Linked DNA regions of Homo sapiens. The protein of the gene in region 1 interacts with the protein of each later gene in a pairwise test. Each region holds a gene or a part of one and is shown in the gene's direction. Other genes may lie near its edges. The genes, in order: STAT5B, MRPS6, TFG and AFTPH.

Region 1 (5,643 bases):
ACAGCACACACACCCCCCACAGCACACAGAGACACACAGTGCACACACACAGCACACACACACCACACACAGCACACACACAGACACACAGCACACACACACCACACCACACACACCACACCACACACAGCACACACACACCACACCACACACAGCACACACACACCACACATAGCACACACACACACCACACATACACACCACACACACATAGACACACAGCACACACACACACACACAGCACATGCTCCTCTAATTCCATGTATGTAGGTTCCATTTTATGTCTATAGTGATACTACTTATTTACTCTTTATCTTCTCCACTGGAATATAAATCTTTGAGAAGGGACTATATCTTTTATCTCTGTACCCTGAGGCCAGCACAATGCCTGAAACATAACAGTTATTGAGTAAAGGTTGACAGGATGATTCTAGCCTGTCTTCCTTTTTTATCTGAATCCATCCTAGACTGGCCCTAGAAGAAGGGCAGCTCCTTCAGAGAATGGAAACGGAAGATTTGGGATGGCTATTCCTACCCAAGTCCTTAGACTGTCAACAGTATTTCTGATCCCGTGCCTGGCTTTTCTGTTTCCTGTGCATGGTGGCGGATTAGGTTTGGATTCAGGTTGGGTTTGGATCTATCACGCAGTGTCTTCTCAGTCCCATTTGTCAAGTTCACTCAGCAGAAACACAGACTATTGATCTGCTTTTGCCAGGGAAGGCTCAGCTGCCTCCAGTGGAGTAGGGAAATTGCTTCCCGTCTCCCTGGCCTCCTTCCCAAAAGCTTCTGCAAATTTCCAGGAGAGCCCTAAGTGGGTCCCTTGCATAGGAAGGCTGGGCCCAGGTGTTGGGATCACCACCACCCTCCCTGTGGCTGGGCAGGATTCCTGAGGTAGCCGTGCAGATACCTTGGATCTGTCCGTCCCTGGATGATCCTCTTCCTGCTCGATACCTGCAGTGAGATTGGAGCCATATTTCTGAGTTCTAGCTCTGGGCTGTTCCTGGCTACATAGAGTTGCTTTTGTCTGTCCCAGCTTGTGCATCCCATGGGTCAGGGCTGGGGTCAGAGTGACGTGGCCCTCAGGGGCCAGCCAGGAGCTCGACCAAGACATGCTGGTGCGCGCATCTTCTGACTCAGCTCAAGCAAGGACTCTGGGCTGTTGAGAAGGTGATGGGAAGGGATTAATAGTCCCAGTGTGGTGGAGACGGGCTGTCGCTGGGAGGGTGGGGTGGGCCTGCGGTGGTGGTTGTAACTGTGGACATGTTTACTTTCTTAGCCTGGGTTATTGATACACAGGTGCTCCTGTGTTCCACGTTCCCTGTGTCTTACCTATTTCATAATAATTTTTAAAAGGTAATGAGGCCTAACTTACTCCCTGTCCCGCCATCAATGAGACTCCTCACAGATGGTGTGGAGGGAAGCCGCCTCCCTTCGGCCTCCCTTTCCTGAGAGAATCTTGGTGGCTCTGCATCCCCAGTGGCCCTGGACATGCTCTCCCTCTGCGGTCTGTCTGTCTGTCCGTGTTCCCTGGTTGGTTGGCTGGGTTCACAGTGAGCTCACCTGGACAAACATGCTGGGCCCCTTCCAGCCTCTCAAGAATCTCATCCTCCCCTGAGGAGGGATTGCTGTGCTCAGGGACTAGACAGAGCCGCCGGGGCTGGGTTTCCCTGAAGAGGCCTTGCTGCGGGAGGGATGGGGCCGAGCAGCTGCTTGTCTCTGTCACCTCTTCTCTCTGTCCTGTTCCCCGTTAACCAAGAAGCACGAACCTCACACAGAGCTCACCCATGTCAGGCAGCTTTCTGGCATCTTCCATGTCCTCATGTATTTAATCTTAATGCACCCCACTGAGGCAGGTGCCGAGAATCTCCCGTTTTACACGTGGGGAAGCCAAGGCACAGGAAAGGAAAGCGATTTGCCCAGGTTCACCTGCAGTCAAGGGCATGGGCACACTTACACCCCAGACAGCCTGGACCCATGCTGGGCCGCGAGAAGAGGGCTGGCAGCCCTGTGAGGCAGGCGGGCAGGAGGCAGGCAGGCCTCCTCCCCAGCTGCCCCAGCACCCGTGTGCCCCCAGAGGGGACGGCTCAGAGTCAGGAGGCTGGCGAGCAGGGCCCAGAGGCGCCTCCTGGGGCACCCATTCATCTTGGCCCCCCTGGCTGTCAGGAACCCCGACTTGCCCTTAATGCAGTATCTGAGCCCAGGAGGGTCTCGCTCCAGAACGGGTGAGTGGGCTTCTCTGGGCCTCCTGTTGGACACTGGGAGGTGATGGTCATGGTTTCCTCTCCCCTCCTCTAGCTCAGTTTGGCCCGCTGGCCCAGCTGAGCCCCCAGGAGCGTCTGAGCCGGGAGACGGCCCTCCAGCAGAAGCAGGTGTCTCTGGAGGCCTGGTTGCAGCGTGAGGCACAGACACTGCAGCAGTACCGCGTGGTGAGTGGGGTCCTGGGCCTCTCCTGGGCGTGGGTGCCATGAAGTCAGTCTCTGGGGACCCGAGGGAGGGCTGGGACCAGCATGAGAGCAGAACCTGGGAGGGCAGGAGGCCTTTTTTCCTGGGGGCCTTGCGAGGCAGAGCAGCTTGGGGAGAGGGAACGGCCTGGGCCCTGCCCTGCCATTTCCCAGCGAGGCCCTGCGGTGTTCTCTGGGAGCCCAGAAGGGGCTGCTCTCCTCCCTTCCCTCAGGAGCTGGCCGAGAAGCACCAGAAGACCCTGCAGCTGCTGCGGAAGCAGCAGACCATCATCCTGGATGACGAGCTGATCCAGTGGAAGCGGCGGCAGCAGCTGGCCGGGAACGGCGGGCCCCCCGAGGGCAGCCTGGACGTGCTACAGTCCTGGTAATGGTGTGGGGCGGCCAGCGGGCAGGGCAGGAGGGGCTGGTGGGGATCCCGGCTGCTTCTGCGTCCTGTGCTGGCTCCTGCAGCAGGCCCCCTCCATCCTGGGACAGCTCTTGTTTCTCCAGGGAGCCTGGTTCCTCAATCAGACTTTGGCCCCCATCCTGTGCACCTCCCCCAGGAAGGGGGCTGCTGTCCTGGAGATGGGACAGGGTTCGGGTGTGTGGGGTGATGCTTGGGCTGTTTGGGCCTAGTCAGGGTCGCCCCTCCTGTGTACGTCTCTAATTCTGGGAGGCAGGGAGCTCTGCTCTTCCCATGGGTGGGAAGTGTGGCGAAAGCACAGAGCCTTCCTGGGGGAACGGGAGCTGTGTCTTGGGGCCTGGCGTCTGTGCGGAGGAGCCATTGTCCTCCTGTTGGCCTTGGGGCTCTCGTGCAGGTGTGAGAAGTTGGCCGAGATCATCTGGCAGAACCGGCAGCAGATCCGCAGGGCTGAGCACCTCTGCCAGCAGCTGCCCATCCCCGGCCCAGTGGAGGAGATGCTGGCCGAGGTCAACGCCACCATCACGGACATTATCTCAGCCCTGGTGACCAGGTGACTGCTGCCTGTTTGCCATGCCCAGGAGCTTGGGGCAGCTCCTGCCTGCGTGGGGGGAGCCGCAGGTGCCTTCCAGACCAGCAGATCCACTTCCTGCCTCTCATCCCTCCCAACTCCATCTCCAGTTGCTGTGGCCCTTGCCCAGTTTCTCCTGTGGACACTGCAAGAGATGCCCTTGGGCTGCAGCCCATGCCAGCTTCTGTGTTATCTCACTCCCCTCTCCATCCTCTCCCTGGACTCTCACGGCTTCCCCAGGAACAGAGGCTGTGCCCGAGCTCTTCACCTCCTGAGCCCCTCGGGAGGCAGCCCCACCCCCACCACAGAGGGACTGAGAGCCCTTTCCCCTGCACCAGCCCCTCATCATGCATCTGTCCCTGTGTCCCCTGCAGCACGTTCATCATTGAGAAGCAGCCTCCTCAGGTCCTGAAGACCCAGACCAAGTTTGCAGCCACTGTGCGCCTGCTGGTGGGCGGGAAGCTGAACGTGCACATGAACCCCCCCCAGGTGAAGGCCACCATCATCAGTGAGCAGCAGGCCAAGTCTCTGCTCAAGAACGAGAACACCCGCAAGTAATTGTGCAGCTTCCTCTCATTCCCTGCTACTTGTCTCATGTCCTGGCAACAGGAAAAAAAGAATTCTGCCTCCTGTGTCAGATCCCTGTTTGCCCTTCTGGCCTCTTCTGGGCATCAGCAAAGGAATATAAGGAAGTTCTTGGGCCTGGTGTGGTGGCTCACACCTGTAATCCAAGCACTTTAAGAGGCCGAGGTGGGCAGATCACCTGAGGTCAGGAGTTCAAGACCAGCCTGGCCAACATGGTGAAACCCTGTCTCTACTAAAAATACAAAAAATTAGCCGGGCGTGGTGGCAGGCACCTGTAATCCCAGCCACTAGAGAGCCTGAGGCAGGAGAATCCCTTGAACCTGGGAGGCAGAGATTGCAGTGAGCTGAGATTGCAGTGAGCTGAGATCACGCCACTGCACTCCAGCCTGGGCAACAAGAGCAAAACTCCGTCACAAAAAAAAAAAAAAAAGTTCTCTTAGGAACTGTTTTCTGTGAAGATAGTTTGATCTTGTTTCATTTTGTAGAGATACGTCCGAGAAGATTACATGTATGTGTTATGTAGCTAACATTTCCTCTAAATGACGTACATTTTTAGCAAACTTCTCTATTTCCTGCTACCCCAAATTATATTATTTACTCCGCATGTCCTGAGACCCTGGCATGGGTTTGGAGCTGGTCTCTCTCTGATTTGCAGTGATTACAGTGGCGAGATCTTGAACAACTGCTGCGTCATGGAGTACCACCAAGCCACAGGCACCCTTAGTGCCCACTTCAGGAATATGGTGAGGGTGGAAGAAGAGGAAGAATGAATTTTTCCCTGGTCTTTGAGGGGAACAACTTATATCTTACGTTTCATCTTATGTTTCTTCTTTGTAGTCCCTGAAACGAATTAAGAGGTCAGACCGTCGTGGGGCAGAGTCGGTGACAGAAGAAAAATTTACAATCCTGTTTGAATCCCAGTTCAGTGTTGGTGGAAATGAGCTGGTTTTTCAAGTCAAGGTAAAGCCTTCCCTCAGCTCTGCGTGTGCGTGTGCGTGTGTGTGTGTGGTGTACTTTATGTTACAAAATATTTTTTTTTTATCACATAGCATCTTCTTCTTTTTGACTGTTGGTAAACTGAAAATGGACTGACCTCACCCTGAGAACTGTTTCACTTAGGTTCTCTTAAGACATGAACAGAGGCCAAGCACAGTGGCTCATGCTTGTAATCCCAGCACTTTGGTAGGTTGAGGCAGTCAGGTCACTTGAGGTCAAGAGTTCAAGACCAGCCTGGCTAACACAGTGAAACCCCATCTCTACTAAAAAGTACAAAAATTAGCCAGGCGTGGTGGCACGTGCCTATAATCCCAGCTACTCAGGAGAATCACTTGAACCTGGGAGGCTGAGGTTGTAATGAACCGAGATTGTGCCACTGCACTCCAGCCTGGGTGAAAGAGTGAGACCCTGTCTCAAAAAAAAAAAAAAAAGACATGAACAAGCAAGGCCCAGTGCAGTGGCTCACATCTGTAATCCTAACACTTTGGGAGGCCAAGGCAGGAGGATTGCTTGAGTTCAGGAGTTCCAGACCAGCCTGGAGCTGGTTGTGAGACCCCGTCTCAACAACAACAACAAATTAAAAAATAAAAAATAAAACATGAACAAACAATAATGAACTGAACTAGCTG
Region 2 (5,643 bases), on another chromosome or scaffold:
GCGTGATGTTTTCCCGCATGTAACTGTTTCTCAGAAAGATGATTATATAAATACCATATTCACGAGTGCTTTTTAGTTAATATATTAACTTAAGCAATTCTTAAGATTCTACACTATAGCCTGACAATTAAATGACCACTTGAAAAGCCTGACCTGTGAATCTGCAGTATTTTTTTCAACATTATTTTAAAAATTTTAAAATTTGGGGTATTTTTGTTTTTGCAGAGCACACAGCATTGGTTTATTCAAAGAGTTTTTCTCTGCATTACACTATTATTTTCTTACTACACTTTATGTACAGTTAGACCCTTGAACAGTGTAGGGGTATGCATAATTGAAAATCTGTGTGTAAACTTTGGACTCCCCAGAAACTTTACCAATAGCCTACTGTTGACCTGGAAGCCTTACCAATGTTATTTTGTATGTTATGTGTATTATATACTGTATTACAATAAAGTAAGCTAGAGAAAAAGCAAGTTTTTTTTTCCAAAATGTTGTGACTCTTCAAAAATTTTTCCAATATATTTATTGAATAAAATTCGCTTGTAAGTGGACCTACACAGTTTCAACCTGTATTGCTCCAGGGTCACTGTATTTTGGTTCCTGTCTCTTCTTTCCCCTCCCATTTACCTACTGTTTTAAAGCCTGTTAAGTCTTTATTCATTAGTTACTCCACATTTCTTTCTTTCTTTCTTTTTTTTTTTTTTTTTGAGACAGAGTCTCAGCTCACTACAACCTCCTTCTGGCTCAAGTAATTTTTGAGCCTCAGCCACCCGAGTAGTTGGGACTACAGGCATACACCACCACGCCTGGCTAATTTTTATATTTTCAGTAGAGATGGGGTTTCGCCATGTTGGCCAGGCTGGTCTCAAACTCCTGGCCTCAAGTGATCTGCCCGCCTTGGCATCCCAAAGTGCTGGGATTACAGGAAAGAACCACTGTGCCCAGCCTACTCCATGTTTCTTAAAAATGGCCTATATAATATGATTCATAAGCAAAGGAGTACAGCATTTAAATTTTAATAAGTGTTTTCTATCTTTGACCTTTACAAAGCCTATAAAGGTTACTTTTCTAGTCACTTCAAGTTATAACTTCAGGTTCAGGCCTGTAGAGGTAAGTAATCACATTTGAACATGTACTTAGGCATCTTTATGTTTCTTAGTGTTCTAGACTTGTCCTTATTGAATTTTATTCTAATTTAAAAAGTAGTTTCTGTGTTCGATAATTTTTATTCCTTAATTACCTAGAGGACTGAAACTCCTGATTCAATAAATTGTTGGGCAAAAGAGGTTCTCTACAATGAAGAATATTTGATCAAACAGTTCCTGTGGAATCAATTTCATAGTTGGGCTTTGCTTATGTCATTAGGCAAGGCTGGCACTTCACATATTTTTATGTAGATGGTTCTCCCAAGGTCTGCTAGAACTTCAGCCACTTTCCATGACACCCATTTGACTGTTGAAAAGTTAGGGCTCACAGATTTTCAGATTGCTGTGAGAATGTCAATGCAGAATTCACAGGGACAGCCTTTCTATTTGAAAATTTAAATTGCAAGGAAATTTTTTAAAGGAAGTAAGATTTGGAATTAAGATTCAGCAAAGAATGGGAAAGACTTTTACATGTACATTTTCACAGGTTTTGACAGTTCTGTGTCTTGGCTCTACCTTCCCTGAGTCCTGCCTGCTCTTGAGTGTTGTATAACTCTTTGTAACGTGAGGCGGGCAGGGTGTAGGTAGATGCTGCATGCTGTTGAATGTTGTGGATTCTATGTGTGCTTTATTTTCTGGGGAACTAGGGTGTGGTAGTGCTAGCTGGGTATATTGGAGGCCACTGGCTTAAAACTGTCTTTCCCATAGAGTCTAATTTCTAAGATAATTTTGTTGACAAGTTTCTCTTCTGGGATGAAAATATGTTTAATTAGGTTAAACGTTGGTCATTGACTAGTGGTGGTGGTTATGATACTTCCATGAATTCTTAGCTTCAGTAACCTTCCTGAGTGGGGATTTTATTTGGGGGACAAGGAGAGATTCCTTTCTTCCTTTCATTCTTCCCACCTTTTTGCTCTCATCTTTTACTACAGCAACTTTTCCCATTAGCATCTCTAGAACTGTGGTTTTCAAAATATGGTTTGAGGACTCTTGGGCTTTACGGGGGACCCTTTTAGAAGATCATTGTGAAAACAGTAGTGAGTAGAACAGCTGGTACGTTAGCATGAATCTAGTCAGCAGCATTAACTTTTCCTAGCAGTACGTGTATTCTTCATTGCTATGCAGTTGCAGTTTTCAAAACTGGCTTCACTGCAGAATGTCCTTCAGAATGATGAGTGGTACCAGAGTAGTATTTAGTCTTGGTAGGGGCTTTAAGAAGTTGTTGAGTTCAACCTCCCACCCATGCAGATATTAATCCAACAGCCATCCTGTATCTATTTATGTACTTCAAGTGATGGGAAGGTCACTACTTCACAAGGCAGCCCACTGCATTTTCATACAGCTGTATATTTTTGGAAATATGTTCTTGTTTACAAAATACAGCTTGATTTCTCTAATTTTTACCCTTTGATTCTAGTCCACTCTTGGAATCCAATCAAAATAAAACAAATCTACCTTTTGCATAATAGCCCTGCAAATATTTGAAGTTAGCTCTTGGGTTTTCCCTAAGTCTTTTGTAGGCTAAACATTAGTTTTGGTAATTAATATAAAAAATTAGCTTTAATTTCTTCTAGGATTAATTACCTTTTTTATAAGTATTATACTATTTCGTTAAATTTTTGGATAGTACTTTATCTTACCTAATCAGCAAATAATTATAATGTAATTTTAACATTTATATTTATATGTGTATTGGAATTTGATATTTGAAATGTATAAAATATTTAATTAATTTCACTTCTAGATGAATTGTAGGTATTTTTGAAATACAGTATTGGTGTGAACAGCATTTTGGTACTGCGTGAAGTAAATGGGAAAACATTAGTATTGTAATTTTGCCTCAGTGTTACAGTTACCACCTTGATAGTGAGCTTTGTTGTATATGAAAAGTGGCTTCAAGTTATGTTAGAGATAGAAGGAAACTTAGAGTTCCTTGAGGAAAGATAGGAGTAAGTAAGCAAGAGACCCTCTTAAAGGAGGTACAATTAGCACAGCTATTTCTAGCACCTGTTCGATGAGTGTGGCCCATTTTAGACGTTGGGAATACAGTCATGTACAAGATAGACAAAGGTCCTTGCTCCTCTGTAGCTTACATTCTGGTTAGTGAAAGAATATTTTTAGATTGCTGTAGTGCTGTTAGAAGTAAAAAAAGAATGACATCAGGAGAACTGGGGGATGGAGGTGCATTTTGGTGATGAAGATATCAGAATTGGGGGGCATAAAAAGACTTTCATCAAACTTTGTTGTGCCTCCAGCAGATGTTGAGAATTGCAGTATGAATGTTGTTTATTCATGTGAAGCTTGTAGCAACAGGAAAATCGAGAACTACTAATTTAGCAGATGAGGAAACTGAGGTACAAGTTTAAAATTGATAAATTTTAATAACATATTCAGGTTTGTATAACTCATTAGTGAATGAGCTAGGACTAGAATCATAGTCCTAGTTTTTCTAGTTTCCATTCCCATTCATTCATTCCTTTCTTTCTGTATTTTTTTTTCAAATGAATGTTTTCAGCCCTCAGTCTGTGCCTTGCCAAAGTGTGTTTCATTGATGCATTTGGTAGGTAGAAGGAAAGAGTTGAAGGAGTTGCTTTCAGATGGGGTGAGAGAAGCCTCTCAGAAGCCTGCACAACTTCTCTTAGAATAGTTGGAATTGAGTGGTTCAGAGACTTTATAAATGAGAATTATGGCAGCAAGATCATTTGTTTCCTGTAAACTATATGCTTTTGTAAGTTGAACATTGTGCTGGATTGAGCAGAACTTTTTCCCCTCTAAGCGTAAGAATTTTATTTTAATAGATCTATAGGTTTCACCAAATGAGGAACATTGAAGTTGGCAACCTGGGTTGATAAAGACATTATTAGGAGCTTGGCAGATGGAATAGTGGATTAGTGGAATCAGTTCTGAGCCCTGCAGTGAGTTGAACAGCTCAACTGATGGTATTCGTTAGATGGTACCCGATGTGTCTACCTGATGACACATCCAGTGAGGAATACACCCTCTATACGTCAGTCAGTGGCCCAGGCTCATGGTTTTATTTGTGGTGCATTTTAGGGTACATGGATTAAGGACCTGCCAGCTTCCCTCAGCCCATCACAATATAGAACCAGGGGTTGGCCAGATAGTAAATAGTTTAGGCTCTGGGGCCATGTGGTCTCTTGTAATTACAGATCTACCTTTAGCACAGAAGTAGCCATAGACACTATGCAGATGTGTGAGTTGGCTGTGTTCCAGTTCAACTTTATTTGCAAATACAGGTAGCAAGCCAGATTTGGCCCAAGAGCCCTGGTTTGCCAACCCTGCTTTATGGTGAGGTAAGGTCTATGGGGCGTTATTTTTGCTCCTCCTTCCACCTTTCGTTTTATACTTCTGGGTGTTTTGAAATTAAAGTGAGATGAATGTGGCCATTCCAGTAGTCTACAGTTTGACCTTGACATACTGAAGTCAAACAATTTTTTTTTTTATATTTTCCTAAGTTACATTCTTGTTAGGTAGCCTTTCCCCTTTTTGAGACAGATGTAAGAAGAAAATGTTTTTTACTTTATAAGCTCTTACTTCAGAAGAGGGTAATGAGTTTTATACTGTAAACACTTCAGTTGGAACTTAAAAGATATTGAGATATATTCCTTTTTAATCAGGCAAAACTGGAATTGAAATTTATTTGGGTAGCTAATCAGAAAACTAATCAATCAAATGTTTTTTTCCTTTTTTTTTTTGAGTGCAAAGCTGAGACCCGACTCTTTATTTGGATGGGCTGTTCCTTTACCTTATCATACGTTAATTGATGTAATGCCAGGTCAAGAAACAGCATTTTCAGTTAAATGAAATACTGTGCTGCTGTTAATAATGAGTCCTCTGCAGATGTATGGCGATGTCTTTGTGAACTATAATGAAATGTGAGAAGAATGTAGTCTTCATATGATTAGAACTGTCTAGGAATGTGTTTGATACAATCATAAGGATAAATTGCCTTAGACTTTTTACCTACTGTTAATGGGAAGAGATTTTGGCCTGAATTTTTATTGTCTTCAGGAAATTTCTGTTTTATCTTAAGGTTGGTTAAATATATAAACAACGATTCAGTAGGAATTTTTAAAATCCCTAATGGACTTCAATATGAAAAGAAAGTAAAGAATGTTTTTTTCTAAGCCTTAAGCCAATACTTAGCACATTTCATACCATTTTAGCAGCACTTGTCAGAAAGAAAATTTTAAAAATATAGTGGATTTTGTTTGGTTGCCAGAATGCACACTTAAACTTGTTCTGCAATTTTCTCTTCATTTGATCCCCAAATGAACCTCTGGAAGGTAGCCTATTCTTAAGTTTCCTCCTGCACTTTAAAATCACCCTGCTTGCACCTCTTCACGTAGGTCTTTGAGGAGATGTGCACCTTGTCTTTGCCAAGGTGTGCCTCTGGCTTCCTCCCCGATGGTTTCCACAGCTTTCCTTCTCCTTGCAGCAGGCGTTTCCACTTAATAGCTGCCCTGTCAGCATC
Region 3 (5,643 bases), on another chromosome or scaffold:
TAAGATGTAGATGATTTCCAGCACTTCAGAAAGCTTTCTTATGTCCTCTCCCCAAGAGTAGCACCCTCCCCCTTAAAGAATAAGCACTGTTGGGTTCAAGTAAATTTTTGAAAGTAAAATTTAGAAAGTTTTTAAAAATCTGAACTATTTTATAATTTGATTAGTTGCAGTATTCGAATTATATTTGATTTGTCTTATCTCCTCATCTTAGAGAAATTGAAAATTAAATGTAGATTTTCTTGTTAAATTGCTTGAGTATACAGTGGGTTTTTATATAAATAAGTTTTTAACCTTAAAGCAGTACCTATATTGTTTTATTCTGTTTAACTTTTGGTTATAATTTCTTCATTATTTTTTCCTGCTTTTTCTCTTTTCGGATTCTAATAACACATACATTGGAGAGCTTGATACTGTCTCATGGGTCATTAAGGTTCATTTTTCTTCAGTCTTCTCTCTGTTCTTCAGGTTGGGTGATTTCTGTTGAACTCTTCAAGGTCGCTGTGATTTCTAATATGCTGTGGAACCTTTCTAGTGAATTGTTTAATTGTGCTTTCAGCTCTAGAATTTCCATTGGGTTTTTATAGTTTCTGTTTTTCTGTTGAGATTCTTTATTTTACATTCATTAAGTCTATATTTTCCTTTAATTGTTTGAATGTATTTATGTTTGATTCTTTAAAAATATTTAGCTGCTTTAAAATGTTTATCTGCAATATGTAACACTTGGACCCATTTGGAGTCAGTTTCTATTGACTGGGTTCCTCTCCCCCACACACACTCCCCCCAACTCCAGTAGGGTCACATTTTTCTGTTTCTTTGCCTGTCTGATAGTGTTTGGTTGAAAACTAGACATTCTGGTTAATATGTTGTAGTGACTTGGACTTATATTCTTTTGAGGATTTTCTGTTATTGTTGATCTAGCAGGGAGTTGATTTGTATGGACTTAACATAAATAACAAACAGAAAAGCGCTCTCTAAAAGAAAAAGGTATTTGGGAATAGAGCATTGCATTGAAAATATGCATGCCATAGTAAACTATGTGCATATTCAGTGAGGTAAAGGCAGACAAAGGTTTTTAAAGGAAAAAATGAGGAGAATATATAATTGTTTTGAAATAATTATTGTTGGCTACAAAGATCATTAGCAAGAGTGATGCCAGTCTGAGGTTGGACAGGCAGTTTCTGGGCAGATGTCCTCACAGTCACAGAAGTTTTTTTTTTTGCTTTTTTTTTTGCAAAGTTGTGATGGCCTTTGTGTAGGCTTGTGGTTTTTGAACTCTTTTGTGATAGTTTTTGCAAGAATCCTCTCTTCATGGCCTTATCAGAGTTTTTAATTTTTTTTTAACATTAATGACTTCATTTTGGTTTTGATAACTTTCACATACTCAAAACTGCTCCTTCTTTCTCCCTATGGTGTATAGCAGCTGATATGTATGCTCAGTCCTTTCAGCTTGCTCTAGGTGCTGCATTTTTCTCTGAGCCTTCTTGAGATATCCTCGTCTGCTCTCCCAGCCCTATAGTCAGCTGGGGATTTGGACAGAGTGTATATACCTAGATCGTGGGTCTTACCCTTTCAGTAGCACCTTCACTTCCGGGATTTTCCTCCTAAATCTTCAGCTGCTTGTCTAGCCATAAGGTTGTTAACACTGTGGTTTTCTGCCATTGGAGCTGCAGAGGTCAGCGCTTTTAATTCTTATCCATTCTAATTTTATTGGGGTAAACTCCTCTGGTTTCTGATTGACTTTCAGTTATTTCAAATAGTTTCTTTTGTTTTGTTCATGTTTTTAGTTGTTACCTGGGAGAGAGTTTATCTGATGGATTTACTTTGCCTTTATCAGTAGTTGGAAATGTGTACAGTCCATTTTGTATTTCTTAGAGACTTTCATGGAATTACTCACAAAAGAGAATTGTGTGAAAATTTGATGAGGTCAGACTTTTAAATTTTGATTTAAATGTAGTATATTCCAGACTAGAATAATATTAATATGATTCACATTATTTGAAGACCATTTTTCTCACAGCTTTGTATGTTGAATTATAGTAGGAAAAACTGTATGCATAGCTAGGATACTTTTGTAGTTCTTCAGGTGTGATGTGGTAAAAATGTGGCTTATTAGAATAATGAATGTGGCAGTGGGAAGGAGGGATAAAATATTACAAACATGGAATGAATATTAACTGTAATAAATTACATATAAGGGAGGAAAGAGGAGCCAAAGTAATAAATATATATATTTAGGCTAATAACAGTGTCTTTTGTGGGAAGAATGTGTGTATTTATCTACATAGATATAAATTTAAGTAAAATGGTGGTAGATAGAAACCATCATCCATTTTATTTTGGCAATCATCAGTCTCTCTTGCATTACCACTATTATATCCTAGTTTAGGTTCTTATTAATACTTGGACTGTCAGCTGTCAACTGTGCCTAATACTGTGGTAAGTTCTGGGGATACATCAGAGCAGAAGATAGAGGTTTGCCCTTAGAGAAATTAGTCTGCTGATAATAGCAAGTACTTATATGGAACTTTCTGAGTAGTAGTCACTTTTATAAGCTTTTGCTGTATAATTCCTTTTATAAGCCCATGCTATAAGCTCTTGTAAACTCATAATCCTCACAATAACCTTATCAAGTAGGAATTAGTATATCCTTTGTACAGATGAGGAAACTGAGGCACAGAAAGAGATTATGTAACATGTCCAGAGTTACACAGCTAGTGAGTGACAGCACTAGGATTTGAACCTGGGTAGTCTAGCTCCAAAACCTATGCTTTTAACCACTCTTCTGCATTGCCAAAGCAGAAAGAATTTAAAGGAATAAGACATATTTACATTGTCCTCAGAATATCTTTTTTGACTGTCACAGCATTGGAACTGTAATATATTCTCTCCATTCATTTCTGTGTTCATTATTTTGTAAGAATTATAGTGGCTCCATATGTAAGTTAGAGTGCTAGGCCTTGTTCGGCAGACAAAAAGAATCAACAGTCAGGAGCCCGGCCAAAAGAGTGCAGAGTCTTTAAGAGGGAAAGTGAGAGCTATTCAGAAATGCAAAGTAGAAGTCAGTATGAGTTAACAAAAGTAAACTAGATAGAAGTTCACTAGTAGAAAAAGTATTCATGAGTCAAGAAGGCTTACTAGAAGTGTGGAATTATAATTGGATTTTAAATAATGTTATATTTAAATATGTGAATGTTATATTTAAATATATGGGATCTAGTGGGAGAGAAATAGAGGTCAAAAAAATATTAGCTATGTTATGGGAGTAGGGAGAAGGTTAGTTTAGCTGAAAGGGAGGCATGTGAGAAGAGAAATTGTGAGAAATAATGTTTGGACCCTTAATGCCAAACTAGGAGGTTGAACTTAATTTATGGTCAGTGAAGACCCCTTGAAGAATGAAGTGACAATTTTGGTTCCTGTGCAGAATACATTGCTTGGAGTAGGGGGATATTGGCATTGCAGACATGAGTTTTGATTTTTGCAGGGAGAGGTTAAGACTCAGGAATATAGTACTCTACACTTTATAAGGAAGGAGTTCCAGTTGTAGCTTTGGATTAAGAGATTGGAGCAAAGGAAAAAATAAAGTACATACATTTAATGTAAAAAGGCGTATTTGTGGTTATATACTTATTCTATAGTACTTTTAGTATCTTTTAACCAAACTTATTCCTTGAGCTTGCTGGGGGAAGGCCTTGTGTTGGATACTAAACTGACTTTTTTTTGACTATCCAGGGCCACCCAGTGCTCCTGCAGAAGATCGTTCAGGAACACCCGACAGCATTGCTTCCTCCTCCTCAGCAGCTCACCCACCAGGCGTTCAGCCACAGCAGCCACCATATACAGGAGCTCAGACTCAAGCAGGTCAGATTGAAGGTAAAATAGAGTTTAGAACACATGTTTGGGAAAGTACATGTGTAGAAGTGTTTATTACAGCATTGTTGTAAACACTTCATGTATTTAGTCATGCCTTAAACACAGGAAAAATTTTGATTTACTGACATGATTTGATGTTAAAAAACCAAATAGAACAATATGTCAGGTATGTTTCCAATTATTGGAATGAAAAAAATACCTCAAAAAAGTGTTTCTATGAATATAGATACAGAGTGAAAGACCAGTCATTAGTCAGTGGTGACCCTTGGAGGGGAGGATAGTGAAGTTCAGACTGGTGATTTCACACTTTATTTTGTGTTATAGATGCTATTTTATCTCCCTCCTTTCTTCAACATCTGTGCATGATTTTTCTAATTTAAAAAAGATTTCTGAATAGAGGTAAAGGATAACTTTAGTTGTAGTGGGTTTTTTTTGTTAAGATTAGTAGCCTTTTATAATTTTGTAAATTTAGCAATATGTCTTTAATGGAAAAAAAGCAGTGTATTTTAAGTCAGACTTTTTCTTCTGAAATAATCTGTCCTTGGATATGCAGTTTAGTCTCTCTGGGTTTTGATATTCTTTCACTGTAAAATGTGAAAACTGGACTGAACCCAGTGGTTTCAAAAGAATGTCTTTAGTTCTGAATGAAATATAACCTGAAAGCTCCATATTTAAAATAGGGGATTGAAGGGCAACAGACTTCACACAGCAGGCACTAAGGTGCCTCATTGAAAACCTTGGAGTTCTGCAGAATGTGACTAAGTACTTAACTAATCTCTAGGGTGCCTTCCAGATAATGAAGTGTGATTTTTGTATTGTCTATGTGTGTTGGGACCTTTAAAGCCGCATTCCACTTCAAAACAAACACCAGGTGGTGCTCTAACTATTTGTTTAACGGGTCAGATAGTGGTATAATGTATTTCCAGCCCCAGAAGCAAGTGATTAAGGTTATCAATTACATTAAAACAAAAACAAAACATAGGCTAAAATGAACTGACCACTTTTGGAATAGAATCCTATCATCCTGTGGTGATACTTTCAGAGTTACCTGGCTAGGTGTGGTGCCTCACGCCTATAATCCCAGCACTTTGGGAGGCCGAGCCAGGAGGATCACTTGAGCCCAGGAGTTTGAGACTAGGCTGGGTGACATAGTGAGACCCTGTCCCTACAAAATAAAAAAAGATTTAAAAAAATTAGCCAGGTGCTATGGCATGTGCCTATAGTTCCAGCTACTTGGGAAGCTGAAGTGGGAGGATTGTTTGCATTGTTGAATTGAAGTGGGTGGTCTAGGCTGCAGTGAGCTGTATCACTCCACTGCACTCCAGCCTGGGCAACAGAACGAGACCCTGTCTCAAAAACAAACAAAGCCAAAAAAAAAAAAATCCACAGAGTTGTCTGTTGGATGAACACCAGTCATTATGGACTAGCAGGTGACATTTTGCTGATGAATCAGTGGTTTGCGAAGAATTTCTTATTGCTTAAGCCTTTTCTCAACCAACTTTAATTAACTCCTCCTCTGCACCAAAATGCTACTGCCAAAACTAGAACAAACTAGAACTAAAGCAGATGTCAGCTGAAATGGACAAAAGCAGAGTATAGGTATGATGAGAGTTTAATGCCTACATCAAGCGAACTAAAGATTTGTTTTTAAATAAATCCCATTTTAAGCAGTGTATACTGTGATACAATGACAGTTGGAAGGATCATTGTACCAAATAATGTTTGCTGTTTATGTATAAATAAATGGGAATTAAGGCGCTACTAGCAATATCT
Region 4 (5,643 bases), on another chromosome or scaffold:
TCAGTTTCCTGGTTTGACCATGTGTTATGGTTATTACCTTATTACTATATTACCATTGGGAGAAGCTAAGTGGAATATACACAAGAACTCTTGTATTTCCAACTTTTTTTGAGTCTTAAACTATTTCAAATTATTAAGTATTTAAAAATTAACTTGGGTCAGAAATAAACATTGAAAAGCCAAGTGAAGAAAATATTTGTAACAATTATTACTGATAAAATTTTGATGCCTTTATTAATATAAAGAACTCATACAAATCCATAAGGCAAGCACTGAATCCTTAATGAATTGAAGGAGAACTTAACAGAATAAGCACTTACCCCAGGAGAGAATTTTGTAGCTGTACTTTTGTAAGTGTATATTCAGAATTATCTGGAATCCCCACATTTCATTAATGTACTACCAGTGCTCTTGGTAACATGTAGTCTAAGAGAACTTTTTTTTTTTCCAGTGCACTATAGCTGTGTAAAGTAATTGCACCTAAGAGAAAAATAGATTAAAAGATACAAAACATCATGCAGGACATGGTCAAGGAAAAAAGGAGACAAAATAGAGCATTGTAAATTTGCATTGTTTTAAAGTAGCTTTGAGAGAATTTTGAAAGATCTTGTTCTATGTAATCTGTCCCCTCCAAAAATTCTTTTTTTCTTTTTTACAGGTGTAAATTAATTATTTGAAAGCAACTGAACAATGGAGCCAGACATCATTCGAATGTACTCTTCATCCCCACCACCATTAGACAATGGAGCAGAGGATGATGATGATGATGAATTTGGGGAATTTGGTGGGTTTTCAGAAGTTAGCCCTTCTGGTGTAGGGTTTGTTGATTTCGATACACCAGATTATACTCGTCCCAAGGAAGAGTTTGTACCTTCAAACCATTTTATGCCAATTCATGAATTCTCAGAAAATGTAGATAGCCTTACAAGCTTTAAGTCCATTAAAAATGGTAATGATAAGGACATCACTGCTGAACTTTCTGCTCCTGTGAAAGGACAGTCTGATGTTTTACTTTCTACCACCAGCAAAGAAATAATTTCATCTGAAATGTTAGCTACTTCCATTGATGGCATGGAAAGACCAGGAAATTTAAATAAAGTAGTGGAGCAGAGACAGAATGTTGGAACACTTGAAAGTTTCTCTCCAGGAGATTTTAGAACTAATATGAATGTTGTTCATCAAAACAAGCAGTTAGAGAGCTGCAATGGTGAAAAGCCTCCTTGTCTGGAGATTCTAACAAATGGGTTTGCAGTGTTGGAAACTGTAAATCCTCAGGGAACAGATGATCTGGACAATGTAGCTGATTCAAAGGGACGGAAGCCTCTTAGCACTCATAGCACTGAGTATAATTTAGACTCTGTACCTAGTCCTGCTGAGGAATTTGCAGATTTTGCCACATTTTCCAAAAAGGAAAGGATACAATTAGAAGAAATAGAATGTGCAGTTTTAAATGATAGAGAAGCACTAACCATTCGGGAAAACAATAAAATTAATAGAGTCAATGAACTGAATTCTGTAAAAGAAGTGGCTTTGGGTAGAAGCTTGGATAACAAAGGAGACACTGATGGAGAGGATCAGGTTTGTGTTTCAGAAATAAGCATAGTGACTAACAGAGGTTTCAGTGTTGAAAAACAAGGCCTTCCAACACTGCAACAGGATGAATTTTTACAGTCAGGTGTTCAGTCAAAGGCTTGGAGTTTGGTAGACTCAGCTGATAATTCAGAAGCCATTAGGAGAGAACAATGTAAAACTGAAGAAAAACTTGACTTACTTACTTCTAAATGTGCTCACCTATGCATGGATTCTGTTAAAACTTCTGATGATGAAGTTGGTTCTCCCAAAGAAGAAAGTAGAAAGTTTACTAATTTCCAAAGCCCAAACATTGACCCCACAGAAGAAAATGATTTGGATGATTCTTTAAGTGTAAAAAATGGTGATAGTAGTAATGACTTTGTGACTTGCAATGATATCAATGAAGATGATTTTGGTGATTTTGGTGACTTTGGCTCTGCCAGTGGCTCAACTCCACCTTTTGTTACTGGTACTCAAGATTCAATGAGTGATGCCACTTTTGAAGAGTCTTCAGAGCACTTTCCACATTTTAGTGAACCAGGTGATGACTTTGGAGAATTTGGGGATATAAATGCTGTTTCTTGCCAAGAGGAGACAATATTAACAAAGTCAGACCTAAAACAGACTTCTGATAATTTATCAGAAGAATGTCAATTGGCAAGAAAATCTAGTGGAACAGGCACTGAACCTGTTGCAAAACTTAAAAATGGGCAAGAAGGTGAGATTGGACATTTTGATTCTGTGCCAAATATTCAGGATGACTGCAATGGTTTTCAAGACTCTGATGATTTTGCAGACTTCAGTTCAGCTGGTCCTAGCCAAGTTGTAGATTGGAATGCTTTTGAGGATGAACAAAAAGATAGTTGTTCTTGGGCTGCTTTTGGAGACCAGCAGGCTACTGAATCTCATCATCGAAAGGAAGCCTGGCAGTCACATAGGACAGATGAAAATATTGATACTCCAGGAACCCCCAAAACGCACAGTGTACCTTCAGCAACTTCCAAAGGAGCAGTTGCTAGTGGCCATTTACAGGAATCAGCCACTTCAGTTCAGGTATTTACTAATTTTCTCTATTTTGTATGATGTATTAATTGTTGTGGAGGCTTCTAATTTCAGCTTTTCAAAAAATATTTTTTCAACTGAGTACTTGTTAAAGGAGTCTCGTTATGATGTATAATGCCTGTCTGATTTGTGGGTTGGTTACATTTTTCACAACCCTTTGGGAAACTACAAATAGTCCTATAGTAAAGCGCAGTAAGATTTTTCTTTATCTCAATGAGTTTCGTTAATATTTACAGATACTCATCAACTTGGATTTTTTGGTGACTATAAATACCATATATGTTAAAAAAAAAAAAAAAAACCCACACTTATTACCTAATTGACGGTTCCAGTCAATCCTTCAGTATTACCCTTTACAGTGATTTTAAAAGAAGGTTAAACTGAGATTTGGATCTTTTTTTTTTTAAGCTTAAGAATAGAATGTTAATTTTTTCCATCAAAGACCTAGGAAATTCAAGTACGGTTTTGATTCCAGGAGAGAACAAGCAGAATTTGAAACCTCATTCTGTGCCAAAGGCTATAGTGAATTGAAGAACAGAAAAACAACTAGAAAAAAGCAAGTTTTTCTTTTTCCTCATAATTTAGCAGCTGCTAAAAGACTTGGGGTGAGGGTATGAGATGAATTAAGGTTTAGTCCTAAAATAAGAAATAACTATAGGTTCACTTATTGTAGTTGTATTTATTTGCCTATACTTTCTTACAAATGTACTTGTTAGCTCTTCCTAGAGAGTAGGTGTGTCAGGGAGAATATTTTTACCCCTTACCTCCTATACATTATCCTTTTTTGATTCAGACTCTTTCAGAAAAGATTCATTAAGATTCACTTTGACCTAAAGTAGCCCCTAGAGGTGTAGCTTGATATCTAGGTTGTTCCCCAGTCCAGAGTTCTACTCTGTGCTAAACTTTACCTTTTTTCAACTCCAGGGGTGTGGAAGAGGGCACTCCCTTGAACCTCACTGCCTTATACTGACAATTGATATATGTAACTAACACCTGATCCACAAGCTTATTTTAAATATACTGTTAATAAACTCAGAATCTACAAACTTTATTTCTCCAGTTATCTTCTGCTAAGAAAACCATTTTCAACTGGAAATCTTTCCAAAGTCTTTGTAATTGAAATACTTATATTTCATTGCCTTGATAACTTTGAGACAGTAAGATATTAGAGAAATTATGGTATTACCAGTTGGTGTGCATAGCTAATCGCTTTTTAGTTGGCTTTTGTGTCAAAGTAGTTTAATTTGCTAATTCAGTTATTACATGGTTTAGCTAATGTGTATTATTCCTATTGAGCAGTTCATTATTTAGGCAGAACCTTGCCATTTTAAACAAGAAGTGAACTAATTATGATGCTAAATGAGGACTGTTGCTTTTGACCTAACCCTTTCCCTATTTAGTTTCATCTCACTAGAGGATAGGGTGACACTGGTATTGGGTGATCTTTAATTTGTAGCCTTAGAACTTTTAACATCATCAGATAATGAATTTTTTAAAGTGTGACCACTCAAGTAGGAATTTCTTGCATCATACAAGTTGATTGAAGTTATTTATGTATAATTTGATAACTGGATATAGGAGATAATAAAGCGTATGGGCTTCATGGAATCTGACAGATCTGAGTTTGAATTTTGACCCAGCCTCTTAAAAAGCCTTATGATTTTTGGATAGGTTACTTCTGAATTCAGCTGTATATACAAAGAAGGTAATACCTACTTCAAAGAACTTTTGTGAATATAAAAGGAAATTTTAAAATGAGTGAAATAATCTGCTAGAAAATAAGAATTTTATAGTATGATTCTTTTTTTTATAAAAATAAAACAAACTATAGATGGGGCAAGATGCATTAAGAGTTTCTGAGACCAGGTGCAGTGGCTCATGCCTGTAATCACAGCACTTTGGGAGGCTGAAGTGGGTGGATCACTTGAGGTCAGGAGTTCTAGCCCTGCCTGGCCAACATGGTGAGACCCTGTCTCTACTAAAAATACAAAAATTAGCTGGGCGTGGTGACGTGCATCTGTAATCCCAGCTACTCAGGAGGCTGAGACAGGAGAATAACTTGAACCCAGCAGGTGGAGGTTGCAGTGAGCCGAGATCACACCACTGCATTTCAGGCTAGGCTACAGAGAGAGACTGTCACACACACACACACACACACACACACACACACACACACACACAAGACTTTCTTGGATTTGTTTGGCTAAGGCCTCATGCTTCTATTTTTGCTAATGGGTTATGGAAAATGAACAGAATTTGGATGTTGGGAAAGAGAAACTGCTGGAGGAGGCCAGAAGAAGTTTGGGAAGAAAGTTGAAGTAGTGAAATGGATAAACCCTGCTGAGTAAGTGACTGAGTCAGAAGTGGAGAAAGATTGAACAAAGACTCTCGTTCTTACCCTGCTGTTGTGAAAGAGAATTGCGGCTGGCACTTTATTTCTTGGGCTTCAGATTCTGCTAGAAGAGTGCATTAATTTAGCCCTTTTGGAGAGGATTAGATTTATTAGTATTTTTCTTAAAATGTTTTCCCTAGTTGCTCCGGACAGTGTTTGGAACAGCACGAATTCCTCACTTTTTTTTTTTTTTTGGAGACAGAATCTTGCTCTGTCACCCAGGCTGGAGTGCAGTGGCACGATCTCAGCTCACTGCAGCCTCCGCCTCCCGGGTTCAAGCAGTTCTCCTGCCTCAGCCTCCCTAGTAGCTGGGACTACAGGCCCATGCCACCACGCCCGGCTAATTTTTGTACTTTTATTGGAGATGAAGTGTCACCATATTGGCCAGGCTGGTCTCGAACTCCTGACCTCAGGTGATCCACCCGGCTCGGCCTCCCAAAGTGCTGGGATTACAGGCGTGAGCCACCGTGCCTAGCCTCCTCACATATTAATAACAGTAAGCATTAAGTTTTTTAGTGGTAAAAGTTGAAATGATTTATTTCTGTTCAATCTTACCCGGATGCCACAAGTGTCCTGAACAAAATGCCATCAAGTGGTTTTGTCCGAATTTTGCTTTG

Evidence for each region.
Region 2: the proteins of STAT5B (region 1) and MRPS6 interact in binary tests that used the Homo sapiens proteins (3 or more experiments, as listed by UniProt).
Region 3: the proteins of STAT5B (region 1) and TFG interact in a two-hybrid assay, tested with the Homo sapiens proteins (one large-scale study listed by BioGRID and IntAct).
Region 4: the proteins of STAT5B (region 1) and AFTPH interact in a two-hybrid assay, tested with the Homo sapiens proteins (one large-scale study listed by BioGRID and IntAct).

What each region holds. Positions count from the first base shown.
Region 1 is NC_000017.11:42,216,495-42,222,137, reverse strand, and holds part of STAT5B (signal transducer and activator of transcription 5B), read left to right. Parts: intron 1-2,295; coding exon 2,296-2,426; intron 2,427-2,674; coding exon 2,675-2,826; intron 2,827-3,259; coding exon 3,260-3,415; intron 3,416-3,807; coding exon 3,808-3,987; intron 3,988-4,673; coding exon 4,674-4,761; intron 4,762-4,855; coding exon 4,856-4,978; intron 4,979-5,643. UniProt on the Homo sapiens protein: Carries out a dual function: signal transduction and activation of transcription. Mediates cellular responses to the cytokine KITLG/SCF and other growth factors. Binds to the GAS element and activates PRL-induced transcription.
Region 2 is NC_000021.9:34,117,865-34,123,507, forward strand, and holds part of MRPS6 (small ribosomal subunit protein bS6m), read left to right. Parts: intron 1-5,643.
Region 3 is NC_000003.12:100,732,847-100,738,489, forward strand, and holds part of TFG (protein TFG), read left to right. Parts: intron 1-3,729; coding exon 3,730-3,870; intron 3,871-5,643. UniProt on the Homo sapiens protein: Plays a role in the normal dynamic function of the endoplasmic reticulum (ER) and its associated microtubules. Required for secretory cargo traffic from the endoplasmic reticulum to the Golgi apparatus.
Region 4 is NC_000002.12:64,550,785-64,556,427, forward strand, and holds part of AFTPH (aftiphilin), read left to right. Parts: intron 1-320; exon of another isoform or gene 321-480; intron 481-658; 5' UTR 659-690; coding exon 691-2,625; intron 2,626-5,643. UniProt on the Homo sapiens protein: Component of clathrin-coated vesicles.